Homo sapiens: one gene and its partners. The protein of the gene in region 1 interacts with the protein of each later gene in a biochemical or structural test. Each region holds a gene or a part of one and is shown in the gene's direction. Other genes may lie near its edges.

Region 1 (7,138 bases):
ATGCAGCAGTTATTTATTGGTGGGACATTGGGTTTACACAATTATAAAAAAATGGAAGTGGCTGGGTGCGGTGGCTCATGCCTGTAATCCCAGCATTTTGGGAGGCCCAGGTGGGTGGATCACGATGTCAGGAGATCGAGACCATCCTGGCTAACACGGTGAAACCCCATCTCTACTAAAAATACAAAAAATTAGCTGGGCATGGTGGCAGGTGCCTGTAGTCCCAGCTACTTGGGAGGGTGAGGCAGGAGAATGACGTGAACCCAGGAGGCGGAGCTTGCAGTGAGCCCTGATCACACCACCGCACTCCAGCCTGGGCGACAGAGTGAGACTCCGTCTCAAAAAAAAAAAAGGGTGGAAGTTACACACTTTTGAAAGATGTGTGCCTCTACTCCAGGGCTTATTCTATTCTGCTGCCTATGTACTTTGTTGTTTCTTTTGCCTGGAATTCAGGCTTCTCTCCCTTTCGTAGGATGTGGTGAATCCTGCTGGATTTCGAGATTTAGCTTGAAGATTCTTTTTTTCTATAACTTTCCTATGAAATACCCCATAACATTAAACCAGAGTCATTTCTTACTCCTCTAGGCACTTTGTTCATTTTGTTCTTATGGCCCTATTCCCATTTTCTTCTGGCCAGTATAGTTAGTTCTAATATGTAATATATTATGAATGTTATTTTCACTTGATTTTAAATTCCTACAGGGTTAGAAGTATATCCTAATGTTTGTATTCTCAGTACCTAACAGGATTCTTAGAACATTATAAATACTATAAATTCTGCCAGAATGTTTATTCTGCACATGGGCAAATAATAGCTAACATTTACTGAGAGCTTACCATGTGTTAGGCTTCGTTCTAAGAACTTGATATTTAATCCTCGTAATAGCCCTATGAGCTTGATAAATTTGTTACTTTCACTTTATAGATGAGTAAATGGAGAAATAGATTAAGATGACTTGCACTAGGACACTAGGGTTTTTTTGGTTTTGTTTTTTGGGGGTTTTTTTGTTTTTGTTTTTGAGACAGTCTTGTGCTTGTCACCCAGGCTAGAGTGCAGTGGTGCAATCTCGGCTCACTGCAACCTCCGCCTCCCGGGTTCAAGCGATTCTCCTGCCTCAGCCTCCCGAGTAGCTGGGATTACAGCCACCTGCTACCATGCCTGGCTAATTTTTGTATTTTTAGTAGAGACAGGGTTTCACCATCTTGGCTTCCCAAAGTGCTGGGATTACAAGCGTAACCCGCCATGCCTGGCCCCGGCTAACTTTTGTATTTTTTGTAGAGACGGGATTTCACCATGTTGCCCAGGCTGGGACTGTTTCTGTTGACTCCCCCCTTACCCCTAGTTTTAGGTCACTTTTTTGCTGCTTTGCAAGTTTAGTGATTTTTTTTTTTTTTTAACTTCGATGCTGGACAGTGTGAATGTTAAGTGATGAATTTTATGGTCTTTCTTTAAAGAGTGTTGAATTTTGTCTTGGTAGGCAGCTAAGTTACTTGTGGATCAACTTGTTTTTAATTTTTTGTTTTTGTTTTTAAATTGTGAGATGGAGTTTCACTCTTGTTGCCTAGGTTGGAGAGCAATGGCACGATCTCGGCTCACTGCAACCTCTGCCCTCCCCCGGTTTAAATGATTCTCCTGCCTCAGCCGTCCGAGTAGCTGAGATTACAGGCAACTGCCACGATGCCCGGCTAATTTTTTGCAGTTGTAGAAGAGATGGGGTTTCACCATGTTGGCCAGGCTAGTCTCGAACTCCTGACCTCAGGTGATCCACCCGTCTGGGCTACCCACAGTGCTGGGATTACAGGTTTGAGCCACCGCGCCTGGCCGCTTTTAATCTTTATTAGGGCATGTCTAGGGTGGTCTATACTCTAGGACTGGTTTAGCCCTACTACTAAGATGTGAATTTTCTAGTATTCCTTCTGAATGTCCTGGTTTTTAGTGAGGCTTTTGCTCTCTGGCTAGTTGGCAATCACATTTTTCCCAGCTCTACTGAACTCTTAGAATTGTTCACTTTCTGGTAGGTGTTCTTTGCCTAGCTTTGTGGAATTTCTCACCCTAACACATGTAGCTTTAGCTTTCAGCCCAAGACTCAAGGAACACCTTGCAGATTTCTAGACCTCTTTATCTGTGTAGGTCCCCCTTCTCCAGTAGTCTGCTTTGCACACTGCAGCTGCCTTAGCTACCCTGAACTCTGATCTCTGCTGCCTTAACGTGATGGGACTGCTGTGCTCTGCTTGGGTTCTTCCTGCCTGCTCTGCTGCCTGGGACGTGCCTCTAGGTGGTAAGCTTAGGCAGTTGTCAGGCTCACATAGGCTGCACTCAAGTGTCACAGTTCTGGGCTGCTTTTGACTAGTGTCTGAAAACAGTTTTTTCGTATATTTTATGGAGATTTCTAATTACAATGAGAGGGCAGCTTTAGGAATGATTACTTCATCATAGGCCTATGTTGTTTAGTATTAAGTATAGGAAAATAATTGTGTCTCTGTCCAGTTGAATGGTAATATATTTTAAGACAGCAACTTAAAATTTTAAGATAGTCCGCTAGAACTTTCTTTGATGATGAAAATGTTCTGTTCCTGTGGGGTGTAGCCACTGGCCATACGTCACTATTGTATACGTGAAATGTGGCTAGTGCCACTGAAGAGATGAATTTTTAAATTAATTTAAATAGCTCTATGTGGGTAATGGCTCCTGTAATGGACAGTGTGGCTGAAGGTTTTCTCTCAGTATTAGAAAATCTCGACCTTACAACGTTTGCATTTAAAAAAGATGCCTGTGGTTGATCTTTAACATATTCTAATTTAGAAAAATATAGTTTTTTTAAGTATAAAAATAGTTGCATGTTCATTGGAGATCATTTGGAAAATGCAGAAAGCACAAAAAAAGTTGAGCACACATAATCCCAAAGATAAGTAAGATTAATATTTTGGTGTATTTCCTTCCAGTTTTCTATAAAGAAGAACCCACTTTAGTGAAAAATCGTTTGGTTTTATTTTAAATATTTCTCTCTCAAAAGGAAATATGTATGGATGGCAAGGTTAAAATTGTGAAAATTTGTATCCTTCCAGAATTAGCTTTATATTGTTATCAAATAATAGCATGGCCTAAACAGGCTTTCCTACCTCTATAGGCTGTATATGTGTAGCAGTTTCAGGAATAACATATTAATCAGGAAGCTTTTTTTTTTAGTCTATTAGTTGCAGACTGGTGTTTAATAGAAAACTTATTTGGCTATTGGCTGCTTTTTGACTTCAGCTGGAAGGAAGCTCAAACATAATATTTGGCTCATTTCCACATAAGACTAAGGGTTACTGACTCTGGTCTGAAGACTGCTTGCAGTTTAGTCGTCTGAGTGACTCCTGTGGCTGAGGATGTGCTGGGTGCTTAGAATCCAAAGGTCTGGCTAGGCTTAAGGGGTTCATGGTCTAGTTAGGGAGAAAAACATGGCAGATTTTCTTCTGTTTTTCTTGGGGCAAAATCAGATTTTACTGTTTAATAGTACAAAATTTTTGCAAAATTAGCAGATAATACTCATCATTTCTAACTTCTGAAATCTTTTGTTTAGGTGAGACATGGAATCCATTAAAATTGCATTATCAGTTAAGAAATGTACGGGAACGATTAGCTAAAAACCTGGTGGAAAAGGGTGTATTGACAACAGAGAAACAGAACTTCCTACTTTTTGACATGACAACACATCCCCTCACCAATAACAACATTAAGCAGCGCCTCATCAAGAAAGTACAGGAAGCCGTTCTTGACAAATGGGTGAATGACCCTCACCGCATGGACAGGCGCTTGCTGGCCCTCATTTACCTGGCTCATGCCTCGGACGTCCTGGAGAATGCTTTTGCTCCTCTTCTGGACGAGCAGTATGATTTGGCTACCAAGAGAGTGCGGCAGCTTCTCGACTTAGACCCTGAAGTGGAATGTCTGAAGGCCAACACCAATGAGGTTCTGTGGGCGGTGGTGGCGGCGTTCACCAAGTAACTCTGCTCGGGGTGAACCATTCTCCTTTCTCTCAAGTAAACCAGTAGTTTTTCTTCTGTTGACTTCTGGTTTTCTGTAATTTGTACTTTCCCACACTATAATTGGCTTCTGTTTTACAAAATGGTGGGTGGCTTTTTCTTTTTTGTACGTGTACAGGATTCTGCTGGTACGAGAGGCCTTCCTCTTTCTGTTTTTAAAAAAAGTTTTACTGCCATATTGGCATTCCATTCCCTGTTGCCATCCTCACTGTTACCTGTTTTGGGTTTCTGGTCTACTTTGACTTTCAAAGTACCTCCAGCCTCCTCATACGCACAGCTTTTGGATGACCTCAGCTTGAGTTTCTCCATATGTGCATGTACATCTAGCATTCTGCCTACAGTTCAGACAGAAGTCACAAAAAGGCCTTCAACTCACCAAAGGTAAATATCTGTATCTATTAGGACATTTTTTACATAGACTTCAGTTGAGATGTATACTTAGCAAAATTATTTTTAAATTGAAACAGCACAGTAAATACTTAATATAAAATGTCCCTTGGATTTTGCTTCCCATGTAAATCTATTGTATTATTACACTTGTTATAATTTTAACTATAAAGGTCCAATTGTTTCACAGAGCCAGTTTGGGATGGGCTGCATTCCATTTATGCTGTATATAGTTTGAATTATATATAAATTACCCCTTCTTCTGGCCACCCCTGCTCCCATCTTAGTATTTTGCAAGATCTAATCAGTTGTACACCTGGTGCCCCTCGCTTGCTTCAATCATGGTTATTTGATGGCAAAATCGACCTCTTGTCGCTGAAGGAGAGAGAAAAGATGTGTGTCTGATTGGTCCTGGGATTTTTTGAGCTGTGCCATTTATGGTACTCTTTGCCTATGCATCCCCTTGTTAGATTTTTTTTAAATTTTATCTTACTGTTTTTATAATTTCTATTGGGAAGAGGCTTGTGACCAGTACCAATCTTGAGTTTCTTTTTCTGTCCACAAGTAAATTAATATCTGCTCTGAAATGTCATTTATCTACTCACACATTCTTGGGGAAAAAAATCAAATGTCAGTCCTAGCAGATGTTGCATGTAAATTGGTAGCAAGTAATGATTACAACCCAGAGGATTAAGAATTTTGTAACAGAAAGCTCTATGTTTTAATTTTTTATATACAATTAGGATAATTAGCATTGTCAGACTATAAACCTTTGCTTTTTAAAGTTTATTTTTACTATTTCTTTATCACTTTATTGTATCATCACCATTGGTTTCATAATGTAAATACTATATGTTGAACAAATTAAATGTCAAAATTTTTTATTACCATAGTCCATGTTAATAGTGGGGCTTTCAGGTGTTTAGAGATTTTTTTTGTTGTTGTTAACATTCATTGCAAAAGTACTAGATGGTGTATAACTCTAGAGTTGAATTTTAAGGGATTCCCTAATATGTATACTATCTTTTTATCTGAAGTAATAAATAAACAATGATCTTGAAAGTGCCTGAATCAGAGCAAGCATGTCATTTGTGTTTTTGTATTCTCATTTAGTTTTCTTTCAAATGAAATGTTACTTACTGTAGCATTGTAATATTTTAATGCAGGGCTTGGGTTTCTTAAAGGGCCAGATAGTAGATATTTTAGGCTTTGTGAGCCGCCAGCTGTGTCAGTTGCAACTACTGAACTTTACTGAATGAAAACTGTTATAGATAATACAAATAAATAGGTTAGACTGTGTTCCAATAAAACTTTATTTGCAAAAACGGGGCTGGTCAAGGCCCCAGTTTTAATGCATGGAAAAAAGACAGATTTTTCTATCCATTGGAGTAACCTTCTTTACCTTCAAAAATGATACTGCTGGTGGTAACTACATGTAGGAACTATTAAAGTGTCTTCCCATAAAGTAGATATTGGGAAACTGATACCAGTATACTGGAATTTCTTATCGAGTGAAAAGTTCCTGTTTTTCACTTGAGAAGATGTTAGAGGTGAGGTAATAGATTTCTGAGGTATTCACTTCATCAGCAGCATCAGTATTCCCAAGCAAGGGGGAAAAGGACCTCACCTGAACTTCTGTCAGTGTTTGCATTAGACCAGAGTGCACACTTAGCTCTACCTGTGTGCGGCCCCAGCTTCAGTGTGTTTCTATTTCCAGAGGAGGAGAAGAGTAGTAAAATCTCGGGGGGGTTGTAGTGGTGTTATCAAGAACTCTTTGTCCTATGGAATATTGTTGCTTTCAGTCCTCTTGAAAGCAGGAATGATGTGACTCCATGGAAATAAGTATTGTCTGTGTTAAGAGCAGTACTTCCACGGGTTTATGCCACTTTGATTAAAAGCCTTTACATAGATATCTATTGTGTAGAGAAGTAGTAGTTGCTGTTTCTTTTTTGGTGGCTTCATATGTTTTGTAATTGGCTGAGTGTTCCTTAAAATAACCTGATTGGTACAATGTACTAACAGAAGCTTACTAAGCGCATGCTATTTTATATCTCATTTTTACCTCCCCAAATTCCAGTTACTATCTTCACTTTGTGAAGAACAATCTCAGAGGAGAATTCGCTCAGTGTCACATTATCTACTAACTGTTCGAGCTTTTAATGCTAAGGCGATTGAGGAACAGTGATGGCATTCAGCTACAATTGTTTCTTTCTTAATTGGGCACTTCCTTTCCCTGACAGAGACAGAATAGGCATGCAAAATACTCTCATGGCATTGCAAAATAAAAAGATTAAAGAACATCTCTATTCTAATATCTTGGTATAACTTGCATAAATTATCTTTTGGGGATGAAAAAGTTGACCAGTTCTGTGTGTTCTCAAAGCAGAATTGTCTAATGACCAGGAAAGTCCCTGGCCTCCTGAAGCAAGGTTGACCAATGATCTCTGACTCGTTCCACCACTCAGCCGTTCTTACTGTTTGTGAACAGATAGGTACAATACTCTTTCTAAGTGTAGTAAACCGTTGAATTTGGTTATCTCCCAAAAGAAAGAGAAAGGGGCTAGGGCCTGAATGGTTCAGTGACACATGGGACCGACCAGTAAGTAGTGACACCTAGCCTGATACTGTCAAGGGCCCATGGCTGCCAGGTGTGGCTACTCCCACCCAGCAGTTGCAAGTTTATGTGAGGTATTTATGAAGTTTAATTTCCAACTCTGTGGCTTCT
Region 2 (8,016 bases), on another chromosome or scaffold:
TTCTCTAGATTTTTGGTGACCTTCTGATTACTATTAATTTACATTTTTTTTATTGTTCTCTACATGTCAAACAAAACAAAGCAACAATATCAAAAACCCACATGCTTTTTCTTCATACTGTCTATATTATTGAATGACAGACAAACATCTGTCCTTCAAGTCAAATATTAATTAATCATAGACTCCTTTCTCTTTTTCTTCACCCCGCCTTATCTAATTGGCCACTGTCTTAGCTTTTTTTTTTTTTTTTTTTTTTAAAGATGGAGTCTTACCCTGTTGCCTAGTCTGGAGTGCAGTGGTGTGATCTCGGTTCACCGCAACCTCCATCTCCTGGGTTCAAGCAATTCTCCTGCCTCAGCCTCCCAAGTAGCTGGGATTACAGACATGCACCACCACACCTGGCTAATTTTTGTATTTTTAGTAGAGATGGGATTTCGCCATGTTGGCCAGGATGGTCTCGAACTCCTGACCTCAAATAATCCACCCACTTTGGTCTCCCAGTGTCTTAGCAGTTTTAAAAATTATCTTTGGAATTTGTCTCATCTCTATTTCTAATTCATTTAATCTAATTGAAGCCTTAATCATTTCTTTTCTTCCAACATGTTGAGCATCTGTTCTGATTTTCCTGACCCCACTTGCCTCATTCTCCAATTATTCTTCCCATAGTTATCAGCACTGAATGCTAATAATAATACTTTGTTCATATCAGTTGTTATTAAAACTCTTCACTTATTCCTTATTATCTTCAAGGTAAGCCCAGCTTCCCAGTCATGACATACAAGACTCTATGTGTGACCCCAATACTTAACACAGATGTGTTTCAGAATTCAGAATTTTTTGGATTTTAGAAAAGTAATACAGTTTATGCAATACATATATAACATCCTCTGCTCATTCCTGAACACTGATGGGAGTGAATGGCAGGTGCTTTTAATAATTACGCTGAGGTAAATTATGCTAGGTGTAAACTGGACCTGTCCTGGGCAAACGAGGATGTTCTTTACACAGTTTAAGAATGTCAAGCAAAGAACATTAGGGATGAAGCAATACAGGGAGAATAGATAGAGTGAAGGGAGCAGTGGGTTAAGTGGAGTCCTGGAGAAATATTTGAAAAGGGAGAAAGGAATGTGGCTCCTGAGGTAGGAGGGAAACCTGGAGCAGGTAGCCCCACAGAAGCCCAGGGAAGAGGCATTGTTTTTCTATTATTTTGGAAGCAGATCCCCTTTAGGAGACTCCTCATCAGATAATGATTATTCACTAAGAGGTTATATTCTTAATTAAAAGGGCCTTTACCTTTTCTTAGAATACTATGTTTGAATAACTTTTTATGTATTACGATATAAAAGTCTCTTTTAAGCATTTCTGTTTTATAGTCATTTGGCCAAAATCTAATTCAGATCCAGCTTAAATCCAAATGTCATTTGATGCTACATTTTATCCTGAGGTTGCTAGTTATTTAGTCAAATATAGTGAGTATAATCACTACAGGCTTAGAGTAAATTTCCATGTCAAGAGGTAGAACACATTTATTCTGTAATATTGAATCCTGTAATATTGAAAATCAAAAACAGCCCTTTTTTTTCTTCTGTAGAAAATAAGATTTTTAAGGAAGGCAGCAGGAAAATAGAACAAGTGAATATTTTACGTTCTTAGTGGTTTATGGTTGGCAGTTTTCCCCCAACATTTTGTTACGAAAAGTTAAAATGTACAGAAGAATTGAAAGACTTATACCCACCAGCTAGATTGTGCCATTAACATGTTGCTGTATTTACTTTATCACTGTCCATCTCTCTGACCATCTATTTGTCCCTCTTTCCATCCATCAGTCTGTCTTTTTTTTGGTAAGCATTTCAAGTAAGTTGACTGACAATTTTTCTAAGCAGCTGTATCTTTATTTTGTTACTGTTTTTTTCCTGGATGTTGTAATTACAGTGTCAAGACATTTAATAATGCACATGTTTCAGCTAACCCTTTTCCCAATTTCTAGAAATCTGAGATTGCCAATAATCCCTGTCAATCTTAAATTATTTTTTAATTCTGGTAAATAGTGTCAAACCTGATTAGTGCCCTCTTTCTCAATTGTTTTGTAATCCAGACAACTGTTAGTCATTAAAACATAATTTATAGTGGTTTTAAAGCATGATTTTCTAAAAAATTTTAAATAAATATTTATTCATATTATGTTGTTTTCAGAGTGGAGAGATCTACAGACCAAGTAATCAAGCCAGTCAATGTAGGAGCTCTATCAAAATGGGTTGGGAAGATACCGCCAGATGTTTTACAAGACATGGCAGTGATTGCTCCTATGCTTGCCAAGCTTGGATATGACCCATATGCCAACCCACCTAACTACGGAAAACCTGATCCCAAAATTATTGAAAACACTCGAAGGGTAAGTGAGATTTTTTAAAGCAACTGAGAAAACTAGATTTTGAATTTGGGATCTGAATACGTTTTTTTCTTATTTTATTTCTTGCTATTTAATGATCAGAAAAATATATTTTTTTTTTTTTTCATTTATTTTTATTTTATTTTATTTTATTTTTTTTATTATACTCTAAGTTTTAGGGTACATGTGCACATTGTGCAGGTTAGTTACATATGTATACATGTGCCATGCTGGTGCGCTGCACCCACTAATGTGTCATCTAGCATTAGGTATATCTCCCAATACTATCCCTCCCCCCTCCCCCAACCCCACCACAGTCCCCAGAGTGTGATATTCCCCTTCCTGTGTCCATGTGATCTCATTGTTCAATTCCCACCTATGAGTGAGAATATGCGGTGTTTGGTTTTTTGTTCTTGCAATAGTTTACTGAGAATGATGGTTTCCAGTTTCATCCATGTCCCTACAAAGGATATGAACTCATCATTTTTTATGGCTGCATAGTATTCCATGGTGTATATGTGCCACATTTTCTTAATCCAGTCTATCATTGTTGGACATTTGGGTTGGTTCCAAGTCTTTGCTATTGTGAATAGTGCCGCAATAAACATACGTGTGCATGTGTCTTTATAGCAGCATGATTTATACTCATTTGGGTATATACCCAGTAATGGGATGGCTGGGTCAAATGGTATTTCTAGTTCTAGATCCCTGAGGAATCGCCACACTGACTTCCACAATGGTTGAACTAGTTTACAGTCCCACCAACAGTGTAAAAGTGTTCCTATTTCTCCGCATCCTCTCCAGCACCTGTTGTTTCCTGACTTTTTAATGATTGCCATTCTACCTGGTGTGAGATGATATCTCATAGTGGTTTTGATTTGCATTTCTCTGATGGCCAGTGATGATGAGCATTTCTTCATGGTTTTTTGGCTGCATAAATGTCTTCTTTTGAGAAGTGTCTGTTCATGTCCTTCGCCCACTTTTTGATGGGGTTGTTTGTTTTTTTCTTGTAAATTTGTTTGAGTTCATTGTAGATTCTGGATATTAGCCCTTTGTCAGATGAGTAGGATGCGAAAATTTTCTCCCATGTTGTAGGTTGCCTGTTCACTCTGATGGTAGTTTCTTTTGCTGTGCAGAAGCTCTTTAGTTTAATTAGATCCCATTTGTCAATTTTGTCTTTTGTTGCCATTGCTTTTGGTGTTTTGGACATGAAGTCCTTGCCCACGCCTATGTCCTGAATGGTAATGCCTAGGTTTTCTTCTAGGGTTTTTATGGTTTTAGGTTTAACGTTTAAATCTTTAATCCATCTTGAATTGATTTTTGTATAAGGTGTAAGGAAGGGATCCAGTTTCAGCTTTCTACATATGGCTAGCCAGTTTTCCCAGCACCATTTATTAAATAGGGAATCCTTTCCCCATTGCTTGTTTTTCTCAGGTTTGTCAAAGATCAGATAGTTGTAGATATGCGGCATTATTTCTGAGGGCTCTGTTCTGTTCCATTGATCTATATCTCTGTTTTGGTACCAGTACCATGCTGTTTTGGTTACTGTAGCCTTGTAGTATAGTTTGAAGTCAGGTAGTGTGATGCCTCCAGCTTTGTTCTTTTGGCTTAGGATTGACTTGGCAATGCGGGCTCTTTTTTGGTTCCATATGAACTTTAAAGTAGTTTTTTCCAATTCTGTGAAGAAAGTCATTGGTAGCTTGATGGGGATGGCATTGAATCTGTAAATTACCTTGGGCAGTATGGCCATTTTCACGATATTGATTCTTCCTACCCATGAGCATGGAATGTTCTTCCATTTGTTTGTGTCCTCTTTTATTTCCTTGAGCAGTGGTTTGTAGTTCTCCTTGAAGAGGTCCTTCACATCCCTTGTAAGTTGGATTCCTAGGTATTTTATTCTCTTTGAAGCAATTGTGAATGGGAGTTCACCCATGATTTGGCTCTCTGTTTGTCTGTTGTTGGTGTATAAGAATGCTTGTGATTTTTGTACATTGATTTTGTATCCTGAGACTTTGCTGAAGTTGCTTATCAGCTTAAGGAGATTTTGGGCTGAGACGATGGGGTTTTCTAGATAAACAATCATGTCGTCTGCAAACAGGGACAATTTGACTTCCTCTTTTCCTAATTGAATACCCTTTATTTCCTTCTCCTGCCTGATTGCCCTGGCCAGAACTTCCAACACTATGTTGAATAGGAGCAGTGAGAGAGGGCATCCCTGTCTTGTGCCAGTTTTCAAAGGGAATGCTTCCAGTTTTTGCCCATTCAGTATGATATTGGCTGTGGGTTTGTCATAGATAGCTCTTATTATTTTGAGATACGTCCCATCAATACCTAATTTATTGAGAGTTTTTAGCATGAAGGGTTGTTGAATTTTGTCAAAGGCCTTTTCTGCATCTATTGAGATAATCATGTGGTTTTTGTCTTTGGCTCTGTTTATATGCTGGATTACATTTATTGATTTGTGTATATTGAACCAGCCTTGCATCCCAGGGATGAAGCCCACCTGATCATGGTGGATAAGCTTTTTGATGTGCTGCTGGATTCAGTTTGCCAGTATTTTATTGAGGATTTTTGCATCAATGTTCATCAAGGATATTGGTCTAAAATTCTCTTTTTTGGTTGTGTCTCTGCCTGGCTTTGGTATCAGAATGATGCTGGCCTCATAAAATGAGTTAGGGAGGATTCCCTCTTTTTCTATTGATTGGAATAGTTTCAGAAGGAATGGTACCAGTTCCTCCTTGTACCTCTGGTAGAATTCGGCTGTGAATCCATCTGGTCCTGGACTCTTTTTGGTTGGTAAACTATTGATTATTGCCACAATTTCAGAGCCTGTTATTGGTCTATTCAGAGATTCAACTTCTTCCTGGTTTAGTCTTGGGAGAGTGTATGTGTCGAGGAATGTATCCATTTCTTCTAGATTTTCTAGTTTATTTGCGTAGAGGTGTTTGTAGTATTCTCTGATGGTAGTTTGTATTTCTGTGGGATCGGTGGTGATATCCCCTTTATCATTTTTTATTGTGTCTATTTGATTCTTCTCTCTTTTTTTCTTTATTAGTCTTGCTAGCGGTCTATCAATTTTGTTGATCCTTTCAAAAAACCAGCTCCTGGATTCATTGATTTTTTGAAGGGTTTTTTGTGTCTCTATTTCCTTCAGTTCTGCTCTGATTTTAGTTATTTCTTGCCTTCTGCTAGCTTTTGAATGTGTTTGCTCTTGCTTTTCTAGTTCTTTTAATTGTGATGTTAGGGTGTCAATTTTGGATCTTTCCTGCTTTCTCTTGTAGGCATTTAGTGCTATAAATTTCCCTCTACACACTGCTTTGAATGCGTCCCAGAGATTCTGGTATGTGGTGTCTTTGTTCTCGTTGGTTTCAAAGAACATCTTTATTTCTGCCTTCATTTCGTTATGTACCCAGTAGTCATTCAGGAGCAGGTTGTTCAGTTTCCATGTAGTTGAGCGGCTTTGAGTGAGATTCTTAATCCTGAGTTCTAGTTTGATTGCACTGTGGTCTGAGAGACAGTTTGTTATAATTTCTGTTCTTTTACATTTGCTGAGGAGAGCTTTACTTCCAACTATGTGGTCAATTTTGGAATAGGTGTGGTGTGGTGCTGAAAAAAATGTATATTCTGTTGATTTGGGGTGGAGAGTTCTGTAGATGTCTATTAGGTCTGCTTGGTGCAGAGCTGAGTTCAATTCCTGGGTATCCTTGTTGACTTTCTGTCTCGTTGATCTGTCTAATATTGACAGTGGGGTGTTAAAGTCTTCCATTATTAATGTGTGGGAGTCTAAGTCTCTTTGTAGGTCACTGAGGACTTGCTTTATGAATCTGGGTGCTCCTGTATTGGGTGCATAAATATTTAGGATAGTTAGCTCCTCTTGTTGAATTGATCCCTTTACCATTATGTAATGGCCTTCTTTGTCTCTTTTGATCTTTGTTGGTTTAAAGTCTGTTTTATCAGAGACTAGGATTGCAACCCCTGCCTTTTTTTGTTTTCCATTTGCTTGGTAGATCTTCCTCCATCCTTTTATTTTGAGCCTATGTGTGTCTCTGCACGTGAGATGGGTTTCCTGAATACAGCACACTGATGGGTCTTGACTCTTTATCCACCTTGCCAGTCTGTGTCTTTTAATTGCAGAATTTAGTCCATTTATATTTAAAGTTAATATTGTTATGTGTGAATTTGATCCTGTCATTATGATGTTAGCTGGTGATTTTGCTCATTAGTTGATGCAGTTTCTTCCTAGTCTCGATGGTCTTTACATTTTGGCATGATTTTGCAGCGGCTGGTACCGGTTGTTCCTTTCCATGTTTAGCGCTTCCTTCAGGAGCTCTTTTAGGGCAGGCCTGGTGGTGACAAAATCTCTCAGCATTTGCTTGTCTATAAAGTATTTTATTTCTCCTTCACTTATGAAGCTTAGTTTGGCTGGATATGAAATTCTGGGTTGAAAATTCTTTTCTTTAAGAATGTTGAATATTGGCCCCCACTCTCTTCTGGCTTGTAGGGTTTCTGCCGAGAGATCCGCTGTTAGTCTGATGGGCTTTCCTTTGAGGGTAACCCGACCTTTCTCTCTGGCTGCCCTTAACATTTTTTCCTTCATTTCAACTTTGGTGAATCTGACAATTATGTGTCTTGGAGTTGCTCTTCTCGAGGAGTATCTTTGTGGCGTTCTCTGTATTTCCTGAATCTGAACGTTGGCCTGCCTTGCTAGATTGGGGAAGTTCTCCTGGATAATATCCTGCAGAGTGTTTTCCAACTTGGTTCCATTCTCCACATCACTTTCAGGTACACCAATCAGACGTAGATTTGGTCTTTTCACATAGTCCCATATTTCTTGGAGGCTTTGCTCATTTCTTTTTATTCTTTTTTCTCTAAACTTCCCTTCTCGCTTCATTTCATTCATTTCATCTTCCATTGCTGATACCCTTTCTTCCAGTTGATCGCATCGGCTCCTGAGGCTTCTGCATTCTTCACGTAGTTCTCGAGCCTTGGTTTTCAGCTCCATCAGCTCCTTTAAGCACTTCTCTGTATTGGTTATTCTAGTTATACATTCTTCTAAATTTTTTTCAAAGTTTTCAACTTCTTTGCCTTTGGTTTGAATGTCCTCCCGTAGCTCAGAGTAATTTGATCGTCTGAAGCCTTCTTCTCTCAGCTCGTCAAAATCATTCTCCATCCAGCTTTGTTCTGTTGCTGGTGAGGAACTGCGTTCCTTTGGAGGAGGAGAGGCGCTCTGCGTTTTAGAGTTTCCAGTTTTTCTGTTCTGTTTTTTCCCCATCTTTGTGGTTTTATCTACTTTTGGTCTTTGATGATGGTGATGTACAGATGGGTTTTCGGTGTAGATGTCCTTTCTGGTTGTTAGTTTTCCTTCTAACAGACAGGACCCTCAGCTGCAGGTCTGTTGGAATACACTGCCGTGTGAGGTGTCAGTGTGCCCCTGCTGGGGGGTGCCTCCCAGTTAGGCTGCTCGGGGGTCAGGGGTCAGGGACCCACTTGAGGAGGCAGTCTGCCCGTTCTCAGATCTCCAGCTGCGTGCTGGGAGAACCACTGCTCTCTTCAAAGCTGTCAGACAGGGACACTTAAGTCTGCAGAGGTTACTGCTGTCTTTTTGTTTGTCTGTGCCCTGCCCCCAG
Region 3 (8,016 bases), on another chromosome or scaffold:
CATTCTTCTCTCTGGTCTCAAAGGAAAGTCTCTTGTTGTAATTAATACTCTTGATTCCATTCTTTCATCCATTGGACTTTTTGTTGTTGTCGTTGTTGTTGTTGTTGTTGTTTTTTGAGACGGAGTTTTGTTTTTGTTGCCCAGGCAGGAGTGCAATGGCGTGATCTCAGCTCACTGCAACCTCCGCCCCCCCGGGGTTCAAGCAATTCTCCTGCTTCAGCCTCCTGAGTAGCTGGGATTACAGGCATGCACCACCACGCCTGGCTAATTTTGTATTTTTAGTAGAGAAGGGGTTTCTCAATGTTGGTCAGGCTGGTCTTGAACTACCAACCTCAGGTGATCCGCCCGCCTCAGCCTCCCAAAGTGCTGGGATTACAGGTGTGAGCCACCATGCCCAGCCTCTTTTTTTTTTTTTTTTTTTAAAGAGACAGGGTCTCATTGTGTTGCCCAGGCTGGAGTGCAGTAGCTGTTACACAGGCATGATGCACTATAGCATTGAAATCCTGAGCTCAAGTGATCCTCCTGCTTCAGCCTCTGAGTAGCTGGGACTGCAGGTGTGCACCACCTTGCCCAGCTCTACTGAACTGTCTCTTTCAGTTTGTTTCACTTTTTACCTTCAACAGTATGTGGGTGTCCCCTGTTCTCAGTAAAGGAAAAAAAATCTGTATATTCCTTTCTCCCAACCAACCCATTTGTTTTTTCACTTTCATTGCTAAAGTCAAATTATTGATGGTCTACAAATGTTCCATCTACCTATTTTTTCATAACCATCCTAATCTTAAAATGTCTGCCATCTTTCTTTCCTCCCCTTTTTTGAAACTATTCTCTTGAAGGTCACAAATGGCAGTCTTCCTAGTCAAAACCAAAGAATATTTTTATTCTTACTGTATTTGACCTCCCAGTAGTTTGATCCTGTTGATTGTCTCTAGCTATTTGGAAACTATTTTCTTTCTTGCTTCTGTTATACTGGACTCTCCAGTCTTATCTTCTTCACTATATTCTTTGCTGGATTTATTTTTTCTTTCCAGTCACCTAGTAAGGGACTCTGTTATTGAGCCTTTGCTCTCCCATAAGAGCAGTATTCCCCAAAGTAGTGTTAAACAGAATACCCTTCTTGTAATATTTCTTAGGTGGTGAGGAGAAAAAAATGAAAACCTTTTTTGGAGGGAAATGTTAGTGTATCCTCCTCTTGGAATTCATAATGCCTGCTGGAATATAAAAGCTCTGAGAAATCCATTAATAAAGAAGGCTATTCAATTTTGTTTAACTCAGTCTTGTTTAGTTTATTTGATCACAGGTTACTATTTTCATGGCCTACCTATTATGGCACAGAATAATATAGCAAAGCCCACTAGTTTGGGAAATATTGCCCTGGGTATCTTAACTACTTTTAAGTGTTTGGCTAATATTTTATGCAGCTGGCTCACAAGACTGTATCTCTTATTGAATGTCAGTTCTGTGTGTGTATATGTGTATACATACATATATATATATATATATTTTTTTTTTTTTTTAGACAGAGTCTCGCTCGGTTAAGCAGGCTGGAGTACAGTGGTGTGATCTCGGCTCACTGCAAGCTCCGCCTCCTGGGTTCACGCCATTCTCTGCTTCAGCCTCCTGAGTAGCTGGGACTACAGGCGCCCACCTCCATGCCCGGCTAATTTTTTGTATTTTTAGTAGAGATGGGGTTTCACCATGTTAGCCAAGATGGTCTCGATCTCCTGACCTCGTGATCCACCAGCCTTGGCCTCCCAAAGTGCTGAGATTACAGGCGTGAGCCACCGCACCCGGCTAGTTCTGTATATTTTTAAAAGTTTTTTCTTTTTTTAGTTTTGTAGAGATAGGGTGTTGCTATGTTGCCCAGGCTGCTTTCAAACTCCTGGCTCCAAGTGATCTTGCCTTGGGCTCACAAAGTGCTGGGATTCTAGGTGTGTGCCACAGCACTTGGTGTGCCACTTCTGTATTTTGAGCTGGCTATAACAACTTTCTTGGGCTGCTTGTGAATGTCTGTTCTTGGGGTTAATGAGGACTCTCTGAGCTGCTTAGTAGAAAGGGTAGTCTTGGTCTCTGTATTTTAAACTTAACAGTTTTTCAGGGTTTTTTTTATTGTTATTGTTGTTTGTTTGTTTTGAGACAGGGTCTTGCTCTGTCACCCAGGCTGGAGAGCAGTGGTGCGATCATAGTTTACTACAGCCTCAAACTCCTGGGCTCAAGCGATCCTCCCACCTCGGCCTCCCAAGTAGCTGGGACTATAGGTGCATGCCACCATGATGGTCTAATTTTTTATTTTTTGGTAGAGATGAGGGTCTTATTATCTTGTCCAGGCTGGTCTCCAGTTCCTGGCCTGAAGTGATCCTCCTGCCTTGGCCTTCTAAAGTGCTGGGTGTGAGCCACCATACTTGGCCACTTAACAGTTTTAGATCTGGAAAATTATTGGAAAATTAGATCTGGAAAACTAAACAAGTGATCCTCCTGCCTTGGCCTTCTAAAGTGCCAGGTGTGAGCTACCATACCTGGCCACTTAACAGTTTTAGATCTGGAAAATTATTGCAAAGATAGTACAGGGAGTTTTTATATACCCCACACCCAGTCTTCCCTATTATTAACATCTTAACATAAGTATGATGCATTTGTCACAATTAATGAACCAGTATTGATATCTTATTATGAAAGTCCGTACTTTATTCAGATTTCTTCAGTTTTCGCCTGCTGTCCTTTTTTAATTCCAGGATCTCATCCAGAGTTACGTTACATTTAGACATTATGTCTTCTGAAGCTTCTTTTCAGCCTTTCCTTGTTTTTTAGACCTTTTCTTGTTTTTGATAATCTTGACAATTTTAAGGATTACTGATTAGGTGTTTTATATAGAATGTCCCTCAATTGGGAATTGTCTGAGTCTTTTCTCAGGATTAGACTGGAGTTGTGGGTTTTCGGACAAAGACCACAGAAGTAAAGTACCAATCTCAACACATCATAACATGGGTATGTTTTTCAAAATGATTTATCACTACTTATGTTAACCTCTATCACCTGGCGTGAGATAGTGCTTGTCAGGTTTCTCCACTATAATGTACTCTTAAAAAAAATCTGTTTCCATACTGTACACTTTGGAAGAAAGTATGTTCACCCTCACTTAATGAGTGGGTAGTTATGTTTTTCCTCCTTAAGGACAGAGTATCAACATAAACTATATGGAATTCTTCTGCAAAGGAGATTTGTCTCTTCTCCCTCATTTATTAACTTAATAATTTACTTGTATCGGTATGGACTCATGGATATTTATTTTGTACTTTGGCTTATAATCCAATATTAGTTTATTTTTTTGTTGCTCAAATTGTTCTGGCTCTGGCTGTTGGAGAGCTCCTTCATTAACTCCTGTATCCCCTTCTTACTTTTATAGTGCCAGAAAGTACAGAGAATTTCCACATACCCTACACCCAGTTTCATTGTGACATACCCCTTTCTTACTTTTTGGTACTTTTAGATGCTCTAGGCCTATCTATACGTTTCCTACTCCAGCCCTAGAGTCAACCATTTCTCCAAGGAACCTTGGTTCCTTTTATTGGAGAATGGCATTAGAAACCAAGGTCTGCAGCTGGGCACGGTGGCTCACGCCTGTAGTCCCAACACTTTGGGAGGCTGAGGCTAGTGGATTTCTTGAGGTCAGGAGTTCAAGACCACCCTGACTAACATGGTGAAACCCCATCTCTACTTAAAAATACAAAAATTGGGCCAGACACGGTGGCTCACGCCTGTAATCCCAGCACTTTGGGAGGCCGAGGTGGGCAGATCACAAGGTCAGGAGTTCGAGACCAGCCTGGCTAGCATGGTGAAACTCCGTCTCTACTAAAAATACAAAAAATTAGTCGGGTATGGTGGTGCGCACCTGTAGTCCCAGCTACTTGGGAGGCTGAGGCAGGAGAATTGCTTGAACCCGGCAGGCAGAGGTTGCAGTGAGCTGAGATCACGCCATTGCACTCCAGCCTGGAGGACAGCGAGACTCCATCTCAAAAAAAAAAAAAAAAACACCACCACCACAAAAAAAAACAAAAATTAACCGGGCATGGTGGGGGGCGCCTGTAATCCCAGCTACTTGGGAGGAGTATCGTTTGAACTGGGAAGCAGAGGTTGCAGTGAGCCAAGATTGTGCCACTGCACTCCAGCCTGGGCAACAGAGTAAGACTCTGTCTCACAAAAAAAAAAAAAGAAACCAAGGTCTGCTTGGCAGATATGCTCGTTGCTACTATAAGGTTATCTTTGGAAATCAAGGAATCCTTTCTCCAGAGGAATCAGAAAGGTGATATTTGGTTTCTTTCACATTATTATGCCATTCTGTCACTTCCAGTCTGTTACCTGGGTTACTAAACACATAAATTCCTTTTTTTTTTTTTTTCTGAGATGGAGCCTCACTCTGTCACCCAGGCTGGAGCGCAGTGGCGCAGTCTCAGCTCACTTCAACCTCCACCCGCCGGGCTGAAGTGATTCTCCTGCCTCATCCTCCTGAGTAGCTGAGACTACAGGTGCATGCCACCATGCCTGGCTAATTTTTGATTTTTTAGTAGAGACAGGGTTTCACCATGTTGGCCAGGCTGGTCTTTAACTCCTGACCTCAAGTGATCTGCCCACCTTGGCCTCCCAAAGTGCTGGATTACAGGCATGACCCACCACATCCGGCCTTGAACATGGAAATTCTTTAAGGGAGCTTTAAGTTGCTCCTGTCTTGTCCAAAGAAGTGAGAAACAACCCCCACTTCTCTGAGATTCCCTCAAACTTTCTGATTTTTTAAACTTCCCTCTAAAGGGTTTCAGCCTGGAGGGGTGTATTAGTTTGCTAGGGCTGCCATAACAAAATGCCACAGACTAGGTGGCTTAAACAGCAGAAATTTATTTTCTCACATTTTTGAAGGTTGGAAGTCTAAGACCAAGGTGCCAGCAGGGTTGTTTTTCTCTGAACTTCTCTCCTTGGCTTGCAGATGGCAACCTTCTTGCTGCTTTATTGTGACATGATAGTCCCTCTGTATGCACACATCCTTGGTGTCTTTTCCTCTTCTTAAAAGGATACGAGTCATATTGGATTAGACCCACTGTAACTTAAGCACTTTAAAGACCTTGTCTCCAAATACAGTTACATTCTGAGATCCTGGAGGCTGGGACTTCAACATGTGAATTTGGGGGAAACACAGTTCATCTTAGAACAAGGGAGATCCACCACACATACACACACACACACACACACACACACACACAGACACCCTTTTATTTCCTCTTTTATCAGAAAAGTCCTTATTTCTCTTTCCTCAGTACAGGGCATGTCTCTTAACTTTGATTATTATTCTCTCTCTCTTTGTCTTTTAAAGAGATGGGGTCTTACTACATTGCCCAGGCTAGAATGCAGTAGCTATTCATAGGTGTGATCATAGCACACCACAGCCAGGAACTCCTGGTCTCAAGTGAAGGTCCTCCTGTTTAAGCCTTCTGAGTAGCTGAAACTACAGGTGTGCACCACTGTGCTTGGCTCCTAAACTTGGATTCTTGCAAACTGTAGCTCATACTAAAGCTATGTGGTCCAGCTGTGGCACGTCAAGCTCTTGATAAATAAAAGGAGCTGTTAGAATGTAGAAAAAGTCCTCAAAATTGTCGTTTTATTACACACATACACACACATACACACACATCAGTTTTGAGGTTTGAAGCTGAATAGTAAATGACCTTTTTTCCCTTTAACAACCATAATTTTCCTTGAGGCAGCCTATGCCTTTAGTTGAATGGGGAAAAGGTCATATGTCAGAAAGGAGGATGAGAAGCGTATTACAAAAAAATGCTTTTTGGGGGAAAATTTTGGAATATAATAGTAGTCTCTCTTATTCTTGAGAGGTTTGAGTAAATTGATTAAAATTCTTAAAACAGTGCCTACTACATTGTTATTCTACAGCTACTTCCTTATTTCTTTTCTGCCTTTTTTCCAGGATGGGACTCTGTCTGTGTTCCTGCCCAAGATCTGGTCCCAGCCCTAGCCTACCTGCCTCACCCTTTGCTCCTGAATGTCTGACTGTTTTTGTTATTTGCTTGTTTTCAGTTTCCTGGTTCATTTCCAGTTAGGCTTAGTTGGCTCCTCCCATAGGTGTCTTAGCTGACTCCCTAGAGCTTGCCTGTTCTTCTGTAATTTGAGTATCAACCTTCTACAGTTCTAATATGCTGCACATGATAATTCCTGCCTTTGCCTCTGCCTCACCAGCCATAATCTGGCCAACTTTTAACTGTAATTTCTACCTCAAATTATTCATAAACCAATCAAAACTGATAACTCTTCCAAACGATATCCCTTTCCTACCTTCTTGGTTCCTATAAATGATGCCCATGCAACTGTTATTTAAGACTGAGGTTAGAAATTTGGTGTTGTCTTTGATTCCTTCAGTGTATCATATTGAGTGCTTCAACATGCAGAGGAGTTACTTGATCGAATTAAAAAAAACGTCATTCTGACTGCAGAATAGAGAACTTGGCAGATCCCTAACTAGTCCCCTTTCCTTGGTCTCCATTTCTTTTTGTCAGTTCTCCTGTGAAGCCAGCCTGAACTTCCTCAAACCTTATTTTCAGAGTGGCTGTATGACTCACTGACTACATCAGGTTAGAATTCTGCTGTCTCATCTTTAAGGTCTTCCATAGAATGGCTCTAGCTACCTTTGTCTCCCACTATCTCCTGACCCAAATTGTATTTCAGGCTGATTGTTTTGCTTACTTTTGCCTTCCCACCTGCCTTTCTGTGTCATGTTAATTCCTGTTTCTGTGCCTTTGTTCCTGCTGTTTGACTCTTAGTTTCTTGCCTCTTTTCTGTATATTTATTATACCAATTTTTTTTTGTTTTTTTTTTTTTAATTGAGGCAGAGTCTTGCTCTGTCGCCCAGGCTGGAGTGCAGTGGTGTGATCTTGGCTCACTGCAAGCTCCGCCTCCCGGGTTCACACCATTCTCCTGCCTCAGCCTCCTGAGTAGCTAGGACTACAGGCACCCGCCACCAGGCCCAGCTAAATTTTTTGTATTTTGAGTAGAGAAGGGGTTTCACCATGTTAGTCAGGATGGTCTCCATCTTGATCTCCTGACCTCATGATCCACCCGCCTTGGCCTCCCAAAGTGTTGGGATTACAGGTGTGAGCCACCGCACCTGGCCTTTTTTTTTTTTTTTTTTGAGATGGAGTCTTGCTCTGTTGCCCAGGCTGCAGTACAGTGACGCAATCTTGGCTCATTGCAACCTCCGCCTCCCGGGTTTAAGCGACTCTCCTGCCTCAGCCTCCTGAGTAGCTGGGATTACAGGCACGCACCACCAGGCCTGGCTAAATTTTTTTGTATTTTTAATAGAGATGGGGTTTCACCATGTTGGCCAAGCTGGTCTCGAACTCCTGACCTTGTGAACCGTCCACCTTGACCTCCCAAAGTGCTGGGATTACAGGCATGAGCCACCACACCTGGCCTATTCTACCAATCTTTTATCCAGCTTCTGATCCATGTCCACTATGAAGCCCCCTGGGACTTCTGACCTGGAATATGCTTTTCCTTCTTTTCTTTTTCTTTTTTTTTTTTTTTGAGATGGAGTTTTGCTCTTGTCGCCCAGGTTGGAGTGCAATGGCGCGATCTCAGCTTACTGCAACCTCCGCCTCCCAGGTTCAAGTGATTCTCTAGCCTCAGCCTCCCAAGTAGCTGGGATTATAGGCACCCACCACCATGGCCGGCTAATTTTTTTTTTTTTTTTTGTATTTTTAGTAAAGATGGGGTTTTACCACATTGGCCAGGCTGGTCTCGAACTCCTAACCTCAGGTGATCCACCCACCTGGGCCTCCCAAAGTGCTGGGATTACAGGTGTGAGCCACTGCTCCCAGCCATGCTTTTCCTTCTTTATACACCATTTACATTTATTGTTTGAGCTTCATTAACTTATTTTGTTCATTTTTTACTAATAGCTTATTGTTTGTGAACTTCGTTTTCTCAACGAAATTTTAAGTTCCTTGAGGAAGGACTATGTTT

The links.
Region 2: the proteins of GOLPH3 (region 1) and TPST1 form a complex in vitro, tested with the Homo sapiens proteins (one study listed by BioGRID).
Region 3: the proteins of GOLPH3 (region 1) and GOLM2 form a complex in vitro, tested with the Homo sapiens proteins (one study listed by BioGRID).

What each region holds. Positions count from the first base shown.
Region 1 is NC_000005.10:32,123,062-32,130,199, reverse strand, and holds the end of GOLPH3 (Golgi phosphoprotein 3), read left to right. Parts: intron 1-3,563; coding exon 3,564-3,988; 3' UTR 3,989-5,484; downstream 5,485-7,138. UniProt on the Homo sapiens protein: Phosphatidylinositol-4-phosphate-binding protein that links Golgi membranes to the cytoskeleton and may participate in the tensile force required for vesicle budding from the Golgi.
Region 2 is NC_000007.14:66,284,318-66,292,333, forward strand, and holds part of TPST1 (protein-tyrosine sulfotransferase 1), read left to right. Parts: intron 1-2,193; coding exon 2,194-2,392; intron 2,393-8,016. UniProt on the Homo sapiens protein: Catalyzes the O-sulfation of tyrosine residues within acidic motifs of polypeptides, using 3'-phosphoadenylyl sulfate (PAPS) as cosubstrate.
Region 3 is NC_000015.10:44,290,703-44,298,718, forward strand, and holds part of GOLM2 (protein GOLM2), read left to right. Parts: intron 1-8,016.